3 linked regions of the Homo sapiens genome follow. The protein of the gene in region 2 interacts with the protein of the main gene of each other region in a pairwise test. Each region holds a gene or a part of one and is shown on either strand. Other genes may lie near its edges. The genes, in order: NINL, SYT17 and CCDC33.

What was found.
Region 1: the proteins of SYT17 (region 2) and NINL interact in a two-hybrid assay, tested with the Homo sapiens proteins (one large-scale study listed by BioGRID and IntAct).
Region 3: the proteins of SYT17 (region 2) and CCDC33 interact in a two-hybrid assay, tested with the Homo sapiens proteins (one large-scale study listed by BioGRID).

The regions. Positions count from the first base shown.
Region 1 is NC_000020.11:25,474,032-25,477,680, forward strand, and holds part of NINL (ninein-like protein), read right to left. Parts: intron 3,059-3,649; coding exon 2,012-3,058; intron 1-2,011. UniProt on the Homo sapiens protein: Involved in the microtubule organization in interphase cells. Overexpression induces the fragmentation of the Golgi, and causes lysosomes to disperse toward the cell periphery; it also interferes with mitotic spindle assembly.
Region 2 is NC_000016.10:19,174,604-19,178,252, reverse strand, and holds part of SYT17 (synaptotagmin-17), read right to left. Parts: intron 1-3,649. UniProt on the Homo sapiens protein: Plays a role in dendrite formation by melanocytes.
Region 3 is NC_000015.10:74,277,685-74,281,333, forward strand, and holds part of CCDC33 (coiled-coil domain-containing protein 33), read left to right. Parts: intron 1-1,434; exon of another isoform or gene 1,435-1,608; intron 1,609-2,278; coding exon 2,279-2,408; intron 2,409-2,983; coding exon 2,984-3,117; intron 3,118-3,649.

The sequences.
Region 1 (3,649 bases), on a different chromosome or scaffold from region 2:
CACAGCAGGGGGAATGAAGGCTGCTCGTTCTCTGACTGTAGATTATTCTGGATTCTCCAGAGGAACCCAACGTAATCACAAGTGTCCTTAGAGGTAGAAAGTGGAGGCAGAAGAGTCAGTGTTGGAGTAAGGTGACATGAGGAGGACTCGGCCATCCAGGGCTGGCTTCCAGGATGGAAGGACGCCTCAAGTCAAGGCCACTGGAGAAGGTGAGGCAGGGAGCTCCCCTCGGGGCCTCTGGATGGCCCTGCAGCCCTGCCAGCACCTCATTCCTAGCCCAAGGAGACCCTTTCCTCTTCCAACCTCTAAAACTAAAACATCGCACTTTTGTGCCTTGTTAAGCCACCAAGTCCGTGGAAATGCACACGAAGGAAGAACAGACGGACCAAGGGCCAACCATGCAGTGTCAGCAACCGGGTCTCTGACACGGACAGCAGACATTCCAAGGGTGGAGAGGCGGCCATTTAATGGCTAGATGTGCGTTCCTAAGAATACTGTCTTACAAAAATGAAGGAACATTTAAGATACTTTTCAGATAAGCAAAAACAGGAAATTTACTCTAAACAGAGTTTCACTAAAGGAACTTTTTTTTTTTTTGAGATGGAATCTTGCTCTGTCACCCAGGCTGGAGTGCAGTGAGTGGTGTGATCTCGGCTCACTGAAACCTCTGCCTCTCAGGTTCAAGCGATTCTCCTGCCTCAGCCTCCCAAGTAGCTGGGACTACAAGCGCATGCCACCATGCCCGGCTAATTTTTGTATTTTTTTTTTTTGGAGACAGAGTTTCGCTCTTGTTGCCCAGGCTGAAGTGCAGTGGCGCGATCTCAAAACTCACTGCAACTTCCACCTCCTGGGTTCAAGCGATTCTCCTGCCTTAGCCTCCCGAGTAGCTGGGATTACAGGCGCACGCCACCACACTAATTTTTGTATTTTTAGTAGAGATGGGGTTTCACCACGCTGGCCAGGCTGGTCTTGAACTCCTGACCTCAGGTGATCCACCCACCTTGGCCTCCCAAAGTGCTGAGATTACAGGCATGAACCACCGTGCCCTAGTTGTTACGAGGTTTTAAATTCCTGATTCCTGGTGGTGCACGCCTGTAATCCCAGCTACTCAGGAGGCTGAGGCAGGAGAATCGCTTGAACCTGGGAGGCAGAGGTTGCAGTGAGCCCAGACAGCACCACTGCACTCCAGCCTGGGCCACACAGCGAGACTCTGTCTCAAAAAAAACAAAAAACAAAAAACAAAAAAACCTCCTAACAAAGCCCAGGAGCTGATGGCTTCACTGGTGAATTCTACCACTTAAAAAAGAACTTCCACCACCTCTTCTCAAACTCTTCCAAGAATTGAAGAGAAGGGAACACTTCCAAACTCATTCTATGAGGCATTACTTGATACCAAAGCCAGACAAGGACACTACAGTCCAGAAAAGAAAACTGCAGACCAATCCCTTATGATGCAAAAATTGATGCTAAAATCCTCAACAAAATACTAGCAAAAGTTATTGTTTAATGGGTATACAGCCTCTTCTGGGAACAACAATGAAAAATCTTTGGAAGCGAGGGCCGGGCGCAGTGGCTCACGCCTGTAATCCCAGCACTTTGTGAGGCCAAGGCGGGCAGATCACCTTTGAGGACAGCCTGGCTAACATGGTGAAACCCCGTCTCTACTAAAAATACAAAAATTAGTCAGGCGTGGTGGCAGGTGCCTGTAATCCCAGCTACTTGGGAGGCTGATGCACAAGAATATCTTGAACCCGGAAGGTGGGTTCAGGACCCCGAAAGGCAGTCCTGCCCTCCCTCTGCCCAGTGGTAGAGCACCAGATGACCGTGGCATTCCGGGACGGGGCTGGGCTCACAACCCCTACTCAGGCTGAAGGGCTACACAGCCCCCATCAGGGGCTGCGAGCTTGTCGGCAGGAAGGGCCACATAGCACCATTAGCAACAGGGGTCAGTGGGTTAGTTCTGCATTTTTAGTTTGAAGTGTTTAGTTTTAAGAATGAGTAGAAGGCAAACCTGTCGTTCTCTCTCAAATCTACATGTTTCTCCAGAGCCCGGACGACGTCTTCCAGATGTAGAAGTTTGGTTTCCATGTCATCCTTCTCTCTCTCCAGCGCTATTTTGGTCTCCCCCTCTTCTGGGGCAGCAAGCTGCTCCTGCCAGGAACCCTGCGGGTCTGCGAGCTGGAGGTGGGATGGCAAGGACCCTCTCCTGGCAACCTCCACACTGTGCTTGTGACACCCAGGCTCCAGGGCGCCCTCGGCCCGGGCCTGCTGCTCCGAGGCCTGCTCCTGGGTGCCCCTGCTCCAGCTTCGTGCTCGCTCTTCCTGAATGGCCTGTAGCCTCTCAGCCTGTCCCCTGCACGAAGCGGCCGGCCTCAGGGGTGGCTCCCACATCCGTGGCTGGGTTTGCGAGGCGTCTCTCTCTGTTCCCAGCAGAGGCAGCTCCCGGGCTCCAGGCTGCTCCAGCCCCGCTGCGCTCGCGCCGAAAGGCTCTGGCTCCTTTGGGACAATATCCCCATCCACTCCACAGGGCTGCATGCGTGACCACCTCTCTGAGGGGCCGTGGGATGCCGGGGCAGGGGCGGGGGCCGGGCTCTGCGTAGCTTCTGTGTCCTGGGCTTGCCTGCGGCGAGGCCCGGCTCCTGCCGCCTCCTCAGACTCTCTGCCATCACCTGGGGCCAGCCAGGCCAGTGGCCGCTCCCCACAGCCCGGACGCAGTGGTAGGAGGCCACGTGTGCCCTCCTGGCCACTTCCTGCCACCAGCCCATCTTTCGGCAGGGCCTGCATCTCTGCTTCCAGGGAGGGCCCGTCCACTCGCTTCCCGCGGGCAAGCTCCAACTCCTCCTCCTCGAGGGCCAACGATACGCACATCTGGGCGCGCTTCTCGCTCGCACAGGGCTGCAGCTTCAGTGCCCTCTCCAGCTCCAGCTGCTCCGACCTCTGGCTCCCGCGTGGCAGGGGTCCCTGCGGCGGCTCCTCCAGCTCCAAGGTCAGGTCTCTGCGAGCGGGCAGGGCTCCCAGCCCCGACAGCTCTCCACTCAGCTCCGCCTCAGCCTCTCTCCTGTGGAAGTAGAACCGTCACACACCACAGCCCTGCCGCCCCCAGCCCCTCTCTCGGGTTTGAAGTCTGCCCAGCTGTTGCAACGGCTGCGACCTCCTCTCTGTGGTTGGCTTTCTTTATCCCTCCTCGCCTCCCTCAGCCCTGGCTTCAACCTATACCCTGGGCCCTACTTCAGAGTCCAGACGAGGATCCGCCCCACGGAGCGAGGTTCTGCACATGGAAGCCCAAGCACGAACCCTTTCCATGTGGAGTGTTCACATGGAAGATGGCCGCCACCATGCAGGACCTGGTTGCAGCCCCTCGGCCGTGCAGGCCACGTTCCAAGCCCTCAAGGCTCCCAACTGGACAGGGCAGACATACGACGTGGCCCACACTGCAGTGGGTTCTACACGATAGCGCTGGAGACCCAGAGCCAAAACTGTCCCCTAATTCCCTGAAGCTGCTGGGCCTTGGGACCTCTGGTGGCCCGCAGGAGAGTCCAGTGGAAGTGAAGTGAGAGCTGGCAAGACCACAGCACCAGAAGGGGTATGTGGTCCATGCCTGGCCAGGGCAAGGGGAGCAAGGAAGTGGTTGGAGGGCCTCCACCTCCAA
Region 2 (3,649 bases):
AAATTAGCCGGGCGTGGTGGCGGACGCCTGTAGTCCCAGCTACTCGGGAGGCTGAGGCAAGAGAATGGCATGAACCCGGGAGGCAGAGCTTGCAGTGAGCGAGATTGCACCACTGCACTCCAGCCTGGGCGACAGAGCTAGACTCCGTCTCAAAAAAAAAAAAAGGAGAATCACTTGAACCTTACCCAGTCTTGGGTATCCCTTTATCACAACAGAAAACAAACTAATACAGGTTGGGAGAAGGATGAATAACTAATTTGCACCACTGTTAAAAGGCAGAACCCCAGCTAAGCCAGTAATGCTAAACTCTAAATGGCACACACTCCCAATCGCCAAGTGGGGCATCTCTGAGAGGGCTGTAAGAGCTCTGCACATTGTAGGCATTCAATATGTGCTTGTTCGACAAACAATCAACCAACTTGACTTTAATTCACTCTTCAATGAGGGTCTTTCTGGCATTGCTTCAAAAAGCACCAGTCAGATTGTGCAGTTTTCCTAATCTTCACCAGCCCAGCCCAGCCAAGAAAAGTTGGGGGCCCACAGGACATGAGCATATGTGACAATTAATGTATCCCCAAGATCACACGCAGAGCACACACAAAGGGCCAGCTCATCTGCCACATGCCAGTCCACAGAGGCAAGTCCCATGGTTCTTGGCTCAAATGTCGCAGTAGGAACAGCACTGCAAAGCCCATACACTTGACATTTCTACTTCCTGTCTGTTTGATAACATGCAGCTGCCCACTTGGTAAATAAATCTGGGGAAAACACAAAGCTGTAAATTTACTTTCTGAATGATTTAGCCATCTTCCCTTTACAGATTTCTCTTACCGTTTTGCATTATGCTGAGTGTCAAAACTGTATTAAGCACTGCCCAGTGTTCAGAAGAGACCTCATTCATCCTGGGAAGCACAAAGGTCACGCACAGCTGTTCAGTCTGTAGACTGCACAACCCTAGGTGGTGCCATTCATAATGGCCACCATGTGAATGGCGCCACCTGGAATTTTGTGGTGTATTGGCCCTGCTGGGAAAGTTCCAGTCCACTTCTCTACTAGTGGCAAAACCAAAAGAAGTATCTTCCCAGAGGGTCCCAGCCCCCTTGCCCCTGCTTACACAAAGGGTTAGCAGCAGTCAAGGCAAAACGCAACTGTCCTCCAGCTCAACATGAGAACCTAGGCTGTGCATCTGTAACACTCAACATTTGGATATCTAGGGGGCAAACAGGTACCTGGCTGTGATACTCAACACCTGTGAGGGGTCTCCGCTGGTATCGAAGAAAATCCAGATTCCTTACTCTGGCATTCAAGACCCAACTCAGCCTAAGCTTGCAGGCTCCCCCAGCTCTTCCTAGATGTAGTTGTGGCCTGAATCCTACAGGTGTGTGTGGAGTTGAGATTTTTGGTGAAAGCAACTCATTAATCAAGCGATAATTCACAGCCGGTTGCCGCGGCTCTCACCTGTAATCCCAGTGCTTTGGGAGGCTGAGGTGGGAGGACTGCTTGAGGTCAGGAGTTTAAGACCAGCCTGGGCAACACAATGAGACGCCTATCTCTACAAGGGGTGATGTCTGCCCACCTCTCTAGTCAATTTCCTCCCCTCTAGTCACAATACCCCAATTGTCTATTACAGGGGTCTGCAAACTACAAAGCCAAATTCACTGCCTGATTTTGTAAATGAAGTGTTAATGAAACACAGACGTGCCCGTTCATTTACTGTCTACAGCTGCTTCTGCATAACAATGGTAGAAATAAGTAGCTGCAACAGAGACCATATGGCCCATGAGGCTAATATATTTATTATTTGGTCCTTTAAAAGTTTGCCAACCCCTGGTCTAATAGTTCAGTTCCTGTGTTTCTGGTGGAAATGACCATCTCCCTGGTTTCCTGGGTGGGCAGGTAACTGGCATGATTCTAGCACCATTTCCTCCAAGTGAAAGTGATTGGTACATAACCCGAGCCAGGCTAATAAGAGTCTTTCCTGGTTTTGTTTTGTTTGTTTGTTCGTTTTTTATGCAACCGCAACAGAATGCAAGTCTAGTGCTGCCACATGGAGAAAACAAGCTTAACAATGAGGCCAATACAGAAGAAACAGAGAAAGAAAGAGAGAGAGAGAAAGGCTCTGATGACATGATTTCTGCTCCTGGATCCAGCTATGCCTGAAGCCATCATTCCTGATTCTTTCATAACAAGGTCTTATGCAGGACTGTCATATATGGAATGCAGGGTGTAAATGCACAACTCTAGGGGGCAACCTGACTTACATACCTGCCTTACCTCCTACGTGAGACTGAAAATTCCCTGAGCATGGTCACAGGACCCTATCTAGCCCTGTGTATACCACAGCGCCTGGCACACTGTACTTAAGAAATAACTACAAAAGGAACTGAGATTAACTTTTCAACTGATGATTGGCACTTTCAGGATGCAAGTTCTGCCTGCAGGATAGTCTGTCAGTCAACAACTTTTTCTGAGTGAACAAGGCAGGCAAAACTCCCTGCCCACATGGAGATAGCATTCTTGTGAGCATAGCTTTAAGGACATCAGATGGACTGAACTAACTTCTGCTACATAGACCAGTAGAATCCTTTTTTTTTTTTTTTTTTTTTTGAAGTCTTGCTCTGTTGCGCAAGCTGGACTGCAGTGGCGTGATTATAGCTCACTGCAGCCCTGACTTTCCAGGCTCAAACGATCCTTCCAACTCAGCCTCCCGAAGAACTGGAACTCTAGGCACCAACGTGCCCAGCTAATTTTTTAAATTTTTGTAGAGATAGGGGTCTCATCGTGTTGCCCAGGCTGGTCTTAAACTCCTGACCTCAAGCAGTCCTCCCACCTCAGTCTCCCAAAGCACTGGGATTACAGATGAGAGCCACGGCACCCGGCTGTGAATTATCTCTTGATTAATGAGTTGCTTTCACCAAAAATCTCAACTCTACACACACCTGTAGGATTCAGGCCACAACTTATGAATAATGAATAATGGAAGAGTTCTTTAACATTGTGTTTGTATCAGTTTAATTAATCTCTATTGAAACCTAATACTGACAGAAATAAATGCTTATAAAACTTTTGCTCTGTGCTAAGCATATTATATGCATATCTCATTTATTTATTTATGTATTTATTTTTGAGACAGGGTCTCATTCTTTCCCAGGCTGGAGTGCAGTGGCGCAATCACAGCTCACTGTAGCCTCAACCTCCTAGGCTCAAGCGATCCTCCCACCTCAGCCTCCAGAGTAGCTGGGGCCACAGGCACACATCACCACATCCGGCTAATTTTTTGATGTTTTGTCGAGATGGGGCATGGGGGGGGTCTCACTATGTGGCCCAGGCTGGTCTCGAAATCCTGAGCTCAAGTGATCCGCCTGCCCTCAGCCTCCCAAAATGCTGGGATTACAGGCATGAGCCACTGCGCCCAGCCAGAGTTACTTACATGTATGATCACCAACAAAGTATCAAGCATTCCTAACTACTTTTCCACATTCCAAATTCATTGACTCCCTTCGACAACTCTGAGAGAAATACTATTCTTTTTATCATCCCATTTCACAGATGGGAAATCAAGGCACACAGAGATCAAACCACTTGCCCAAGGTCACAGAACTCGAAATAGTAGTTGAGACCACAGAGCCTGGATACAGAACCATTTTGC
Region 3 (3,649 bases), on a different chromosome or scaffold from region 2:
GCACAAGACAGGCTGACCCTCCCTCCCCAGTCCTAGGTCTGAAGTGATCTTTCCTAAGTGACTTGCCCTGGGAAACTACTCAGGGAAAGGGCTGTTCCTTATTGGGCCGGCAGCCACTCACCACCTCTGGCTTCATAGGCTCCATTTAGACACATGAATAGGTCCCAGAAAGGGCAGCTAGCGTCTACTAAATAACCCTCTTCCAGGGTAGGAGCAAGGTATGGACGGCAGGGGACTGAGTCACAGGTGCCCCAATGCCTGGCAGACAGTCCCAGCCATGTGGACCCTCCTGCACCCAGGAGAATGGGGTGACTCTGGGAGGGACATGGTTTGGGGATCAATCTTGAAAGATCACTCCCAAGCCCCACAGAAGTCAGAACCAACTTCTCTCACCGGACCTGTTGGCCAAGCTCCCATAAGAAGTGGGATGTTCCCATCATTGCAGTCTCTGTTCAGGTGTCCAGGGCACCCTAGCCCTGCAGTGACTGCAACCCATCTCCCCAGGGGCAGGGGCAGACACAGCTGAGCCTTGGGCTGGGCCTGGACAAACCAGGCCCATTAGTGTGACCGTCATCAGCACCCTGCCACTGTGGGGAAGTGGACCTACACTGATATTTCATGATCCTGCATCAATAACTCCTGGAGCCGCAGTGCATTTGTGCTGACCTTTTCGAGCAATGACTGATTCCTGTGGGGGAGCAGGAGGTGGGAGCGGCTGCTACTGTTGCTGACAGCCCCTGGCTGGGGAACAGAGGCAAGGCAGCCACTTGGTGGGTCTGTAGCAACGACCCGCAGCCCCGCCCTGTGCTGGGACCCTGCAGGGCTGCCTGCTGGGAGTTATGGGCCGATGGCCATCTCCCATCTCCCACCTTCTGGCCTTGGCAGATGCTGGGCCTCCCCCTGGAGTCTCTCCTCATTTCAGGCGTCCTCTGCACAGGGTGTGCTCAGTGCCACTCCACATTTTTGATTGTGCTGTTTTCCCATCCTGAAGACCTTTATCCCTCTCTTCACCCAGCCAGACCTTCCTTCAGAGCCTTTCTCTGGTTCTGCTTCCTTTAAGGAGGCTTTTCTGACCACCCATGGGAATATTTCATATAGCTCTCTTATTGGGCAGTGCTACAGTTAATACTGTCTTGTTTCATTGTTTAAATCATACCCATGTGTGTGCCCTAACTGCTGACCTAGGGTGCCATCAAGTCCCCCGAGTGCCCACTGGCCCACACTGCGGGCACACGGAGCCTCTGTAGTCTGCAGAGATGTCTTGGCCTCTGCAAGGGGCTGGGGAAACTGTGTGGGAAAGAGAGGGGCTGGTGACACAGACAGAGGTCATGTCTAACTTGGCATCTGTGACACCACCAGCCATGGGTGTGAACACAGATACAACACTTTAGGAAAACAGTTTACCAATAATGAATGAGGTGTCCTAAAATACACATGTCCTATAACCCAGCAATTCCATTTTAGGTAGTTGTACTAAGGAAGTAATTTGCGACATGAAGATATGTAGCAGAGAACGTTCAATGCAGTGTTATTACAGGGAAAAATGGGAAGGAAGAAATCAGGGCACTTGGACATGAACTTCATATCCTGAAGTTACTCAAGTCATGGGTAATGAGCTTTCTGTGACTTTGGATCTGCTTAGGTTTTACTGGCAAATGAAAAATGCAGGATGCTAGAATGGTGATTATACACAAAATATACACAGAAAAAAACTAGGAAGAAGCACAGTTTTATGAATTATTGTGTTTATCATAGGAACACAGGAGCTGTTTTTCTTCTTCCTATTTTTCTGCATTTTCCTAAATGTATTTATTAGGTGTGTGCTGCATTTATTTGTTTATTTATTTATTTATTTATTTTATTTATTTAGAGACGGAGTTTCGCTCTGTCACCCAGGCTGGAGTACAGTGGCGCAATCTCATCTCAGGGCAACCTCTGCCCCCCCGGGTTCAAGCAGTTCTCCTGCCTCAGCCTCCTGGGTAGCTGGGATTACAGGAGTCCCCCACCACACCTAGCTAATTTTTGTATTTTTAGTAGAGACAGGGTTTTGCCATGTTGGCCAGGCTGGTCTTGAACTCCTGACCTCAAGTGATCCACTTGCCTTGGCCTCCCGAAGTGCTGGAATTACAGGCGTGAGCCACTGTGCCCAGCCAGCTTGCTTTTATAGTTGGGAGAAACATTTGTGACAAATCTAGATACACAAAACCAAATATCTGTGTATGCCTTGATTTGGGAGAAGCTGTGGCCCCCACCACCTGCTCCTACCCTCTCCCTCCAGCTGTCCAAGCCTGGGGGACCCCCAGAGCAGCCCCTGTGGAATCAGTCCTTCCTCTTCCAAGGCCGAGATGGAGCTACCAGCTTCTCAGAAGACACAGCCCTGGTGCTGGAGTACTACTCCTCAACTTCAAGTACGTGACCCCTGGTGCCTCGCCAGGGCAGCCATGCCTCAGGAGATCTGTATTATGAAAGGGTGTTCAGACCATCCCACCTCTGCCTCCCACAGGGATGGATGGTTCCCAGGTGTCCAGGCGGCTTCCTAATGCAGGCAGAGGAGAGCTGGCTGCGTTCCTTGTCCACAGGCCAGGACACGTGGGCCTGTCCCATACTAGGTCTTGGCCCCAAGCTTTGTTTTATTGCACCCATCAGTGATGGGGGAGGGCTGGAGCCCTCGGAACTCACAGAGAGGGGTGAGGGAGATGGGCTTCAGAGACCAGCTGATCCACAGTTTTCTGCACTGTGGGATTGAAGCCCCCAAAGGGTAGAGATGAGGCTGATGTATATAAATTCCCAGACACACAGAGTATGTTTAGAGTTGGCTTTGAGTTCACAAAGCCCTGAAGATGAGAAGAGGATGTATGTGCAGGGAAAGGCCAGGAGGCAGGAAAGCAGGCAGCGGGAGACAGGAGGACTGGATGTCAGGTATTAAAGGATGGGGCCGAGGTGGGGGCTTTGGCAGGAGCCCTAGTTGATCCTTCCCCCACAGTGAAAGGCAGCCAGCCGTGGACCCTCAACCAGCCCCTGGGCATCTCTGTGTTGCCGCTAAAGAGCCGTTTGTACCAGAAGATGCTGACAGGGAAAGGCTTGGACGGGCTTCACGTGGAGCGGCTCCCCATCATGGTGAGCCCCCTGCCCTGAACTGGGCCCCTAGCGTGCCCACCTGGCCCCACCCTGCCTCACCCTGCCCCACCTCACCACACCTCCATAGGAGAATTTGGCTTCTCCAGAAGCTTCTGTCAAGGCACCCACCAGGGAAGTCACCCAGTCTAGAAGTGAGGAGCTCCCTGGAACCCCAGAAGCCAGTCTTGCCTCTGGGACTATGACGAACCAAGCCAGAGAAATTGCCCCTGAGCAACTTGGGAGACAAGTACAGGGTGACCCTGTGAGACAGTGCAAGAGTTCAGGCTTTCAGCCAGCCAGACCCTGATTTGAACCACAGTTCAAATCCTCACTGTGGAAATTCAGGCACATTACTGAACCACAAGAGTCCTCGTCTGTAACACAGGAGAAGCATGCCAAGTACACAATCTCTGTGTATAACAAGAGAGTTCAGAGCTCAGGCTCTAGAGCCAGACTGTCTGGGTCCAAATTCTGGTTCCACCACATACCAGCTAACATGACCATGGGAAAACTACTGAAAGTGTCAATGCCT